Homo sapiens: one gene and its partners. The protein of the gene in region 3 purifies or fractionates together with the protein of the main gene of each other region. This does not show direct contact. Each region holds a gene or a part of one and is shown on either strand. Other genes may lie near its edges. The genes, in order: RAB11FIP5, MPST and ANXA4.

Region 1 (3,649 bases), 3.3 Mb from region 3:
GTTAAAGACAAGGTAAAGTGAAACTAGAACTATTATATTCAGAGTATGGTGACACAGTTGGAAAACCCTTTTCCCTAGAGCCTCCTCCACCCTGATGCCTCCTCTCCTCTCCAAGTGCCCACCACAGCAGCCTGCCTCACACACTGGCACACAGGAGCTGTGTGGGCCTCAAGCCAACCCCTGCTGTCTCCCCGCATCCACCGCCTACCCCATCTTTTGATTTGGTATCTACAGTAAAACTGCAAGCCAGACATAATTGCAGGACAGGATACAGCCTCTTATCAGGCCAGAAGATGATTCTTATCACCTCCTCTGGCACCATGCCTGGCACCAGCAACCTTTGGAGGGAGCCCAGGTCCTCATTCATGAGTTCCCCCTGCCTCTGTGGGGACAGCTCACTCATCCCTCCTCAGACCCCAGCCAGGTCCAGCCTCCCTCCCTCCTGGGCACAAGCACTTTTAATCCTCATCCTAATGCTGTAGGCTCCAAAGGTCTGTCACTGTCAGCTCACCCAGCACAAGGAAAAGCTGCAAAAATGGCTGGAGACAAGTCAAACCACAGAGAGCAACAGAAAAGATGTAGGGTTGATAGCACAGTGTAGGGAGAAAAGCATCAGGCTTAGACATCAGAAATCTGGCTGCCACTAAAGAGTTGTGTGACCTTGGACAGGTCATTCCACCTCCTGAGACCCCAGTCTCCATATTCGCAAAAATGGTGATCCCCCTGTCTGCCCTCAGGGAAGAATGAAATGAGGTGATACTGGGAAGGCACCCTTAAAAGTAGGCCAAACCACACAGAAAGATGTGGGTTTATTGTCTATCAAAGGCCTTTTACAGGCCATCATCAGCCCCATATAAGTGAGGTGGCCCAGGACCAAAAAGCAACAACCCTGCCCAGGAGGAAGGAGAGAACCCGCAAGATGACCTCTCTCAGGGGATCTCTGGCAGGTGGAAAAATAAAGAAATTCCACTTAACCCATCCCCCTCCCCAGTGTGCTCCTAACCCCATATTCACCCTGACCAGGAGACTCAGGTTGAGGAAGACAAAACCAAGTGGCGATGGTCCCCTCTGCCAAGGTCTCAGTTCAGACCCCACAACAGGGGGAAACAAACAATAACTTCCCTGCCAGGCTCATGGGAAGTACAGAACTGTGTGGTGAGAACGTTGCATTTGGGAACAAGGAGGGAGGGAAGAAAAAACACAACGCATTTGCCTTTAAATGCAGAAAACACCTTTGGAAGGTTACACAAGAACTGGTAATGTTGGATGTCTCTGAAGAGAGGAGCTAGGTGACTTAAGGTGGGTCAAGGGAAATTTTTTTCATTATGTGCCCTTCTGTACCTTTAGAATTTGGACCAGGTGAACTACTCAAAAGTAAATAGGGGCCAGGTGTGGTGGCTCACACCTGTAATCCCAGCACTTTGGGAGGCTGAGGCAGGCAGATCACTTGAGGTCAGGAGTTCGAGACCAGCCTGGCCAACATGGTCTCTACTAAAAATACAAAAATTAGCTGGGCGTGGTGGCACGCACCTGTAGTCCCAGCTGCTCGGTAGGCTGAGGCAGGAGAATCACTTGAACCTGGGAGGCGGAGGCTGTAGTGAGCCAAGATCACACCATTGCACTCCAGCCTGGGCAACACAGCAAGACTCTGTCTCAAAAAACAAAACAAAACAAAACAAAACTAAATAGGAAGTAAAGAAAGTCCTGCTGTTTTGCTGAGAGTGGCACACAGGGAACTAAGCTTGGCTCCCCTCACTCCCTCTCCTGGCCCAGTCCCACCACACTCACAGTTTCCCTGCCTCCAACTCACCCTGCCTCTAATCAGGTCTCACCTGTTATTCAAGGCCTCACCTCTCCCAAGAAGCCCACCCTGATCACTCCAACTGGTGAGCTCCCTCTTCTCCTGACCCCCTCATTCTCTCACGCTTTTTATATGCTGCTTTGTAGAGGAATTGTCCTTGCTGCGTTAGGCTTATCTCAAACATATTTTAGCCCTTCTGGAGAAAGGGCTATCCACTTTATTTCCCTGGTTTCCCCCACAGCACTGACCTAGGCACAGTGGTTACAATGGTTGTCCAGTAATTGCTTCCTGGATGTTGTGAAACAGAAGGGAAAAAATAGCAAATGACTGTATTGCTGCAGGAGGAAGAACAGGATGGCTTGGAGTGTTCTGTCACAGTAAAACCAGCATGTGACGTCTTGGGAAGGATTACGGAGTCTGGTATGTGCTGATGCCCCCAAGCCCTGCTTGAAAGGAGCAAATCTCCCCAGGGTGGAAAGTGCCCTGGTGGAAAGTGAGGCTGACCTTCTCAGGCCTCACTCCACTCCTTTTTTTATTTTTATTTTTTGAGACAGGATCTTGCTCTGTCACCCAGGCTGGAGTGCAGTGGGGCAATCATTGCTAATCGCAGCCTTGAACTCCCGGGCTCAAGTGATCCTCCCACCTCAGCCTCCTGAGTAGCTGGGACTACTGGTGTGCACCACCATGCCCAGCTAATTTTTTGTATTTTTGTAGAAATGGAGTCTTGCTATGTTGCCTAGGTTGCTCTTGAACTCTTGGCCTCCAGTGATCCTCCTGACGCGGCCTCCCAAAGTGCTGGGATTACAGGCATGAGCCACCACACCCAGCCCTCACTCCACTCCCGAGAGGTATCTGGTGGCAGTGACTCCCTCCCAAAGTATGAGACAACATCCCCCAGCCTCTGGGACAGACATAAGGCTAGAGCTGCAGACCAAATGTGCTTATCCCAATAAACCAAGGACTCACCCAGGAGAAGCAGGTCATGCCTACAGAGCACCAGATTAACCCCCGAGATCCATGTCAAGGAGAAGAGAGGAAGCCTTGGCAGGCAGCAGCTGAGCACCTGGCCCTGTGCAGAGCAGGGTCATGGAAGACATGGGGGAAGACTGAGGTGGGCAGTGTGGTGTGGTGGCCAAGAGCATAGACTGGGAAGCCAGACTGCCTGGGTTCACATCCTGACTTTGTGCCATGTGCTGTGGTCAAGTCCAGTGACTCATGCCTATAATCTCAGCACTTTGGGAAGCTGAGGCAAGAGGATCACTTGAGAGTTCATGGCTGCAGTGAGCTATGATGGCACCACTGCATGCCAGCCTCAGTGATGGAGCCAGACCCTGACCCCACCCCCTCAAAAAAAAGAAAGAAAAAGCAAAGTCACTTTACCTCTCCGTGCCAAGGTTTCCTCAGCTGTTAAACAGCACCTACACCTCAAGGGCTTGCTGTGGACAAATGGAAGTCCAGACCTTAAGACAGTGCCAGCACCCAGATAGGCCTTCATCAGCAATGCACTAGACCAACGAGGCAATGAAAATAATGCACCAAAACAGGTGCCACATGCTCCAGATGTGGGGATTCAGAGAAGGCTGGGGAGGCAGATGGGTTCCATGATGGCCGACAGGTCTCTGGTGTATGTCCCCTCCTCACAGAGGAGGAGACCACAGCCAGCGCCAGTGGCTCTGTCTGCTCCGAACATCTCCAGGGCTCCCTGTCTAGGCCCCAAAACACAGCACTTGGCTATAGGGCTTCCTCCAAATGTAGGGAGATATCCAGGCTTCCCCCCCTTTGGAATCTCTCCCCCACCAGTGGCCCACTCTTGGCCTTTCAGGCCTCTAGAACTGCCTTTGGATTGGA
Region 2 (3,649 bases), on a different chromosome or scaffold from region 3:
CTTGCTCTCCTTGCCCCTATCATGTCTTTATGCTCTGTGTTACTGCTCCCATTCTACATAGGCAGAAGCTGCAGTTCAGAGACATTAGATGACCCGTCGTGTGTCACAAAGCCCATGTAAATGTGGCAGGGATCTGAACCCCAGTCTGGCACCACCAGCTAGCTCCCCTGTGTTGCTCATTCCCCTGGGGCTGAGATGGAGAACCCAACAGGATTAAGGTGGTGCTCTCATTAGGCTGAACCACATGAAACTGACACCTGTGTAGGTTCAAAAATGGTTGGATATCAGCTGTTTCCTATGGTTCCGGTAACACCAACATTGCTTTGCAGGATTCCATGCAACAGGGACCTTCTGTATTCACCAAACCTCTCTGGAACATCGACTCTGTGCCAGGTACTGAGCTAATCTTCAGGATGCATGAAGAGCAGGGACAGTCCTTGCCCTCAGGCCATCCAAAACAATGCTGGCCCATGGTGAGCCCAAGCGGCTCCAAACCCAATCTGTAGCCATGGGAATGCTCTTCAGAGAGCTCTCTAGGGGCAGTGGTCAGTTTCTTGCACTCTTGAAGGCACAAGAGAAAGGGCTGGGGAGTTCCTGGTTGCTCACGGCTGTTAAGTGCGCAGGCTGCCGAGTCTGAATCCCGGCTGGGTTGTTTCTTGAGACCTTGGGCCAGGTTCCATTTCCTCCTCTGTGCAATGACAGTATCTACTTACACGGGATGTTTGAAAGACTCACACTAGCGTGACCACTGACCAGCCTGCTTTGTGGGGACTCCTCCTCGCATTATACAGAGCTTACCCACAGGCTTCTTGCCTGAGGAAATCCAGCCCACAGGCAGAAGGCTCTGCCCTACCCACTTCTGTTTAATCCCCCTTCCACCCTCAGTTCTCCAAGCTTTGGTCCCTGGAAGAGACTTTCCTTTATGCAGCCCCCGACTCTGCCTTCATTCCACCATCCTCAGGGGCATGGGTAGCCCTGATCAGGACCATCCCTCTGGGTTTTTCTCTCATACTGGGGCCTGCCCCCCAACATTCCACAGTGACCCCCCACACCTCTAGTGTTGGATTGAGAGCTGTTTGGGCAACCAGGGTTCCCAATGAGCTAGGGAGAGTCACTGCCCAAAGCACAGGAGGGGAAGGGCCAGTATTATGGTTCTGCTTAACAGACAAAGTCACCGAGGCAAGTGGAAGTCAAATCTCCTTCCCCACCTCATGCAGTGGCCTTTAAAGGCAAGGTCAGGCTGAGCGGGGAGGGTCACCTGAGCCCAGGAGGTTGAGGCTGCAGTGAGCCATGATTGTGCCACTGCACTCCAGCCTGGGCGGTAGAGCCAGACCCTGTGAAAAGAAGGCAAGGGTAGGGAAAAGGGGGAAAGGAGGGAAGGGAAAGGGAAGGAAAGGAAAGAAAAAAGGAAAGGAAATGAAAGCAAGATAAATTAAAAAAATAAAAGAAAGGTCAAGTCCAGGGCACTGCTCAGGGCGTAGAGGCCGCGCCCCCGACGACCTCCTGCCCCCTTCCCCCGCGTTACCGTCTCGGGGCTCGGGCTCGGTGCCGCGGAACCTGCCAGTGGCTCGGGAGTCCACCACCTGGAAGCGCCGGGATTCCAGGTTCTCCTTGATGTCCTCGTAGGTCTTGATGAAGGCGGGGTCGAGCTGAGCGCGGAACTCGGCGGGAGCAGGTTGGCTCTTGCCGGAGCTGAGCGGGAGGTTCTGGCGCAGCCAGTGGCGGAGGCCGCCATCAAGCAGTGACACGGCGTGGTGGCCGAAGGCGCGGAACATCCACCAGACGCGCGGGGCGGAGTAGAGGCCCTGGTCGCTGGCGTCGTAGATCACGACGTGGGTGGCCGCGCCCACGCCCAGGCGGCCTGCGTACTCCGCGAAATGCTCGGCCCCGGGCAGCATGTGGTCGTAGGGCGAGGTGCGGTCGCTGCACTGGTCGATGTCGAAGAAAGCGGCGCCCGGGATGTGGCGCTCCTCGAACTCGCGTCGCGCGTCGCGCCCCAGCTTCGGCAGGTACCAGGAGGCGTCCAGCAGCTGCAGAGGCTGCCCAGCGCGCGGGGCCCGCAGCGCCTCCGCCACCCATTGCGCCGACACCAGCGCGCGGCAGAGCTGCGGCGAAGCCATGGCGGCGACACTCGGGCTGCGGGCCTGGGCGACAGGGAGGATGTCAGAAGGGAAGCAGGGAGAGGCCGCTGTTGGGGCTAGGGCTGGGGCTGGAGCATGGGCGAGGGCCGGCGGGGGAGGTGCGGCCCGTGCAGGGCAGAGTCCAGGGAACGCAGAAACCAGTGGTGGTGAACCCGGGCACAAAGGTGGGTAGCCAGGGGCCTCCCTCTGCCAGGCCTCATATAAACACAAGCTCCGAGTGACCCAATGACCATGACCTCCCGGAGAGCCCCAGGCCACGCCCCTCACCTCCACTTGCTGGGCAGGAGGGTGGGTGGAGGTATCCTAGGGCAAGGCCCTGCTGGCTTCAAGGCACAAACAGGGGCAAAGTCTCCACCCCTCCCTAAGATGCAGCTCGGCTTTATTTGCAACCAAGTCCCAGACGGAAGTCATTCATTCACTCATCAAGCATTTATATTGGCGACCTAATAGGAACAGTAGCTGGAATTTACTGAGTCCTTGCTGGGTACCACTGAATCCTAACAATATCCTAGAACAATGCCTGACACAGTAGACTCTCCAGTATGTGTTGAATGAGTGATCTTAAGAGGCCTGGTATATTATTGTCACCGTTTCAAGGAGGACACTCAGGCTCACAGAAGTGCACTAACCTGGCCTGGTGCGGTGGCTCACGCTTGTAATCCCAGCACTTTGGGAGGCCCAGGCAGGTGGATCACCTGAGGTCAGAAGTTTGAAACCAGTCTGGCCAACATGGTGAAACCCCGTCTCTACCAAAAATACAAAAAATTAGCCGGGCTTAGTGGAGGGCACCTGTAATCCCAGCTACTCGGGAGGCTGAGGCAGGAGAACTGCTTGAACCCAGGAGGCGGAGGTTGCAGTGAGCCGAGATCGTGCCATTGCAATCCAGCCTGGGGAACAAGAGCAAAACTCTGTCTCAAAAACAAAAAACAAACAAGAAAAAGTGCACTAGCCTGACCCGGCGGTGCCAGGCTTCTCACTAGGCAGTCAGTCTGGCACCAGAATCCGGACTTCTCAGACACACACTCTGTGCAGGCTCCAGGAGTCTGGCGAGGCCAGGTTTTGCCTGTCCAGCCTGGGCTCTCTCTGGCCCTTCTAGCAGCAGCAACAGTGACTTCGCACCTCCCTCCCTCTCCTCTCTATCTTTCCTGCATACCAGAGACAGTGCACCAGCTCGCCAGCCCACTATGCCAGGCCAGCCCACAGCCTTCCTGGGTGTAAACTTCCCAAACACTTTAAGCCCTTTGTGCTGGGAAGCCACCGTTGTGCAGGTGAGAGGAAAGGGCCCCTTCTGCCAGGCAGAGGCTGAGCCCCCACCAGGGCACATGGCTGGGTGTGTGGAGTATGGGCTGCAGATCAGCCCTCACTTATCCCCTGTGTGAGGCCCAACCTTGACACCCACTGCATGCAGTCCTGCCAGCGAAATGAAGGGGGCAGGTAGAGAACAACATCTGTGGACCGAGTGCCTCTGTGGGCCAGGTCACATGCTAGGCACCGCAGCCTTGGGCGGG
Region 3 (3,649 bases):
CCGCCATTTGGCTAAACAGGGATCTCCCTCGAAGCAGAGCTTGGCACCGAGGATCCCTCATGCTCAGCGTTCTGTGAAAAGTCTAATCAGCAAACAACAACCCGCTGCTACCCTCATTCTCTAATCACAGCGAAACCTCAGCCAGGGCCACTGCGGATGTCACGTACGCTGCTGGTAGGTTTGGCTTATGCGCCGGATCTCCTCAGGGGTCCGGGAGGCCAGGATCTCAATTAGGCAGCCCTCATCAGTGCCGGCTCCCTAAACAAGAAACCAGAGGACAGGGCTATATGAGCCAGTTTACAAAGCTGAGGCCCAGACACAGAAGGAATACATCTGTCATGAATCTGCAGAGAATAAAGACAATCCACTGCGTTCTAACAACAGGGTTTGTTCACTTTTATTGTCCCACCCGAAACCCAAAGTGTTTGCCGTAACAATTATGAGTAATAACAAACATTTCTAGGCTGTTTATTATGTGTTCGTTACTGTGCCCGGGTAGGTATGGTTTCTGCCCTCTGGGGACTTAATTTTTCCTTGACCTCTTCTGCTCTCTTCCTCTGAAGGGCAGAATTTTCTGGCAAAGACTTTGTCACCTCTTTGCTTTCCCAGAGCCTGGCCCAGAACCTTCCACAAGTCTGAGTATTTATTGACATGGTTGAGGAGGATAATTGTACTCCTCGACTTATGATGAGGAGTACAATACACTGAAAATTTTTAAGTAGAACCATCCTAAGGTGGGGACCATTTATATTTGCATTACATACTTGGTCATTAAAATTTGGCAGACCAGGCTAGGGCACAGTGGGTACGTCATCTAGGGAAGCCAGGAACTCTTTTGCCAGAAGTAAGCCTATAGTAGACCTGGAGGCCCCTAAAGTGTCAGTCATAAAGTTACATATCTCAAAAGTAGTTAGCTGTCTAGAGATAGCTAAAAGTCTCTAGAGCTGTACTAAAAGCGACAATTATAATCACTCCCCATTGAGCCACAGGAAGGAGCAAATGATTCCCTAACTTTTTGGAAAAGAACTTTTAAATTATAATTGGTATAATGTAAAGTAATGATGTTTTCAAGTTGTCGTAAATGAAGGAAAATCTCCTATACTTTACACCTGCTACTCTCAGAAGGCCTTGGTCATAGTTTCTTTCTTTTTTAAAAAAATTTAACTTTTACTTTAAGTGCAGGGGTACATGTGCAGGTTTGTTATATAGATAAACTTGTGTCATGGGGGTTTGTTGTACAGATTATTTCATTACCCAGGTATTAAGCCTAGTACCCATTAGTTATTTTTCCTGATCCTCTCCCTCCTCCCACCCTCCATCCTCCAACAGGCCCCAGTGTGTGTTGTTCCCCTCTATGTGTCCATGTGTTTTCATCATTTAGCTCCCACTTGTAAGTGAAAACATATGGTATTTGATTTTCTGTTCCTGCCTTAGTTTGCTAAGGACAATGACCTCCAGCTCCATCCATGTTCCTCCAGAGGACATGATCTTGTTCCTTTTTACAGCTATTCCATGGTGTACATGTACCACATTTTCTTTATCCAGTCTACCATTGATGGGCGTTTAGGTTGCTTCCATGTCTTTCTTATTGGGTGACAGTTTCTTAAGAAAGCACATCAGCGTTTGCACCAACAGCACCAAGAGCACGAGAGGAAGAGCACAGACCTTCATGGCCCTTCGCAGCTCTTGCACGTCATACAGCACCGTGGGCGTCATCATCCCCACAATCACCTGCTCGAAGTTGCCACTCAGTTCTGACTTCAGGTCGTCTATCAAGTCCTGCAATGCAAGAAAGTAGCTCCGCTTAACTGCTATAGCAAATTAGACCAGCTACTCTCCAGGTGTGGTCCAGGGATGTCTGGGGTCTCCAAGACCCTTTCAAGGGGCCTGCAAGTCAAAACTATCCTCAGAATAACACTCAGATGTTATTTGCCTTTTCACTGTCATTCTTCCACAAGCATACAGTGGGGTTTTCCTAAGGCTATTTGACATTGTCTGTGCATCAACAACTGTCTGTTCAAATACTCCCCCCATTTTCAAGTACATATCTGTACAAGCCAGATTTTCTTCATATACCCCAACCAAAACCACATATCATAACAAATTGAAGTAGAAATAGATATGAGAAGCCATCTGTCTTCCATTAAGCCAGACATTAAAGAGATCTGCAAAATGTAAAACAATGCCAATCTTCTCACTAAATGTTTTTTCGTTTTGGGATATATAGCTATTTTTCATTAAAATGTTATTTACAGTAACATACAATATACTTATTATTTTTACTAAGTTAACAAATATCTATTTTTAAATGCCCTCAGTTTTAGTTTCTAATAGGGCAAATATCAAAAGATATAACCCACAAAACCAAAAGTCCTAAAAAATTTAAGAGGTAAAGGAACTTTGAGGTGAATATGTTTGTAGACACCGATGTAAATGTATTTGCCTACTTAACAATATGTCTTGAATATACTTCCAAGTCAATATTCACTGATAACCTTTTTAGCAGCTGTGGAGATTTCTATAGATAGGTGCAACATAATTTCTTTTTTTTTTTTTTTTAGATGGAGTCTTGCTCTGTTGCCTAGGCTGGAGCGCAGTGGCACGATCTTGACTCACTGCAGACTCCGCCTCCTGGATTCAAGCGATTCTCCTGCCTCAGTCTCCCAAGTAGCTGGGATTACAGGTGCCCACCACCATGCCCAGCTAATTTTTTTGTATTTTTAGTAGAGACGGGGTTTCACCATGTTGGTCAGGCTGGTCTCGAACTCCTGACCTCAAGTGATCCACTCGCCTCGGCCTCCCAAAGTGCTAGGATTACAGGTGTGAGCCACCACACCCAGCCTAATTTCTTTAACTAGTCACCTGTTTCTATTTTTCTACTGTTATATACATAAGGCATTTAGTTGTATCTTTGTGATCATTCATGACTATTTCTTAAGGCTCAATTCCTGAGATATAGTTTCCAAATATAATTATTTGGAAAATGGACCAAATTCTAAAGATGTTTATTCACATTTCCTCCTGGAATGGGTCAGAGAGTTTAAGAACTTGTTTAAGATCAATTGACGAAGAAGGAGCTGAATCGCTATTCTTTTTTTTTTTTTTTTTTTTTTTTTTGAGATGGAGTCTGTCTCTGTTGCCCAGGCTGGAGTGAAGTGGCATGATCTTGGCTCACTGCAACCTCCACCTCCTGGTTCAAGCAATTCTCCTGCCTCAACCTACAAAGTAGCTAGGATTACAGGTGCTCAGCACCATGCCCGGCTAATTTTTGTATTTTTTAAGGAGAGATGGGGTTTCACCATGTTGGCCAGGTTGGTCTCAAACTCCTGGCCTCAAGTGATCCACCCACCTCGGTCTCCCAAAGTGCTGGGATTACAGGTGTGACCCACCACACCTGGCCTCAAGAACATCTTTAAACAAGACAAAGGATCGATCTTTTAAAACACAAGGTCACTTCGGGAACCTAGATCAGGAAGAGGCCCTGCTTCCTGTTGCTGCGAAGTCAGCCAGACAGAGCAGGAAAGACTGTGGCCTACCCTGCCGATGGTGCTCTTGTAGGCTGTCCTGATCTCCTGGCGCTGGGCGGTGTTGCGGTAGGCAAGGACGCTAATAATGGCGTCTTCATCGGTGCCTGGGGGAAGAAGGGAGA

The links.
Region 1: the proteins of ANXA4 (region 3) and RAB11FIP5 fractionate together in Homo sapiens (co-fractionation; one large-scale study listed by BioGRID). This does not show direct contact.
Region 2: the proteins of ANXA4 (region 3) and MPST fractionate together in Homo sapiens (co-fractionation; one large-scale study listed by BioGRID). This does not show direct contact.

What each region holds. Positions count from the first base shown.
Region 1 is NC_000002.12:73,102,913-73,106,561, forward strand, and holds part of RAB11FIP5 (rab11 family-interacting protein 5), read right to left. Parts: intron 1-3,649. UniProt on the Homo sapiens protein: Rab effector involved in protein trafficking from apical recycling endosomes to the apical plasma membrane. Involved in insulin granule exocytosis. May regulate V-ATPase intracellular transport in response to extracellular acidosis.
Region 2 is NC_000022.11:37,022,687-37,026,335, reverse strand, and holds part of MPST (3-mercaptopyruvate sulfurtransferase), read right to left. Parts: intron 2,585-3,649; exon of another isoform or gene 2,409-2,584; intron 2,145-2,408; coding exon 1,526-2,144; intron 1-1,525. UniProt on the Homo sapiens protein: Transfer of a sulfur ion to cyanide or to other thiol compounds. Also has weak rhodanese activity. Detoxifies cyanide and is required for thiosulfate biosynthesis. Acts as an antioxidant.
Region 3 is NC_000002.12:69,804,515-69,808,163, reverse strand, and holds part of ANXA4 (annexin A4), read right to left. Parts: intron 3,632-3,649; coding exon 3,537-3,631; intron 1,780-3,536; coding exon 1,666-1,779; intron 259-1,665; coding exon 168-258; intron 1-167. UniProt on the Homo sapiens protein: Calcium/phospholipid-binding protein which promotes membrane fusion and is involved in exocytosis.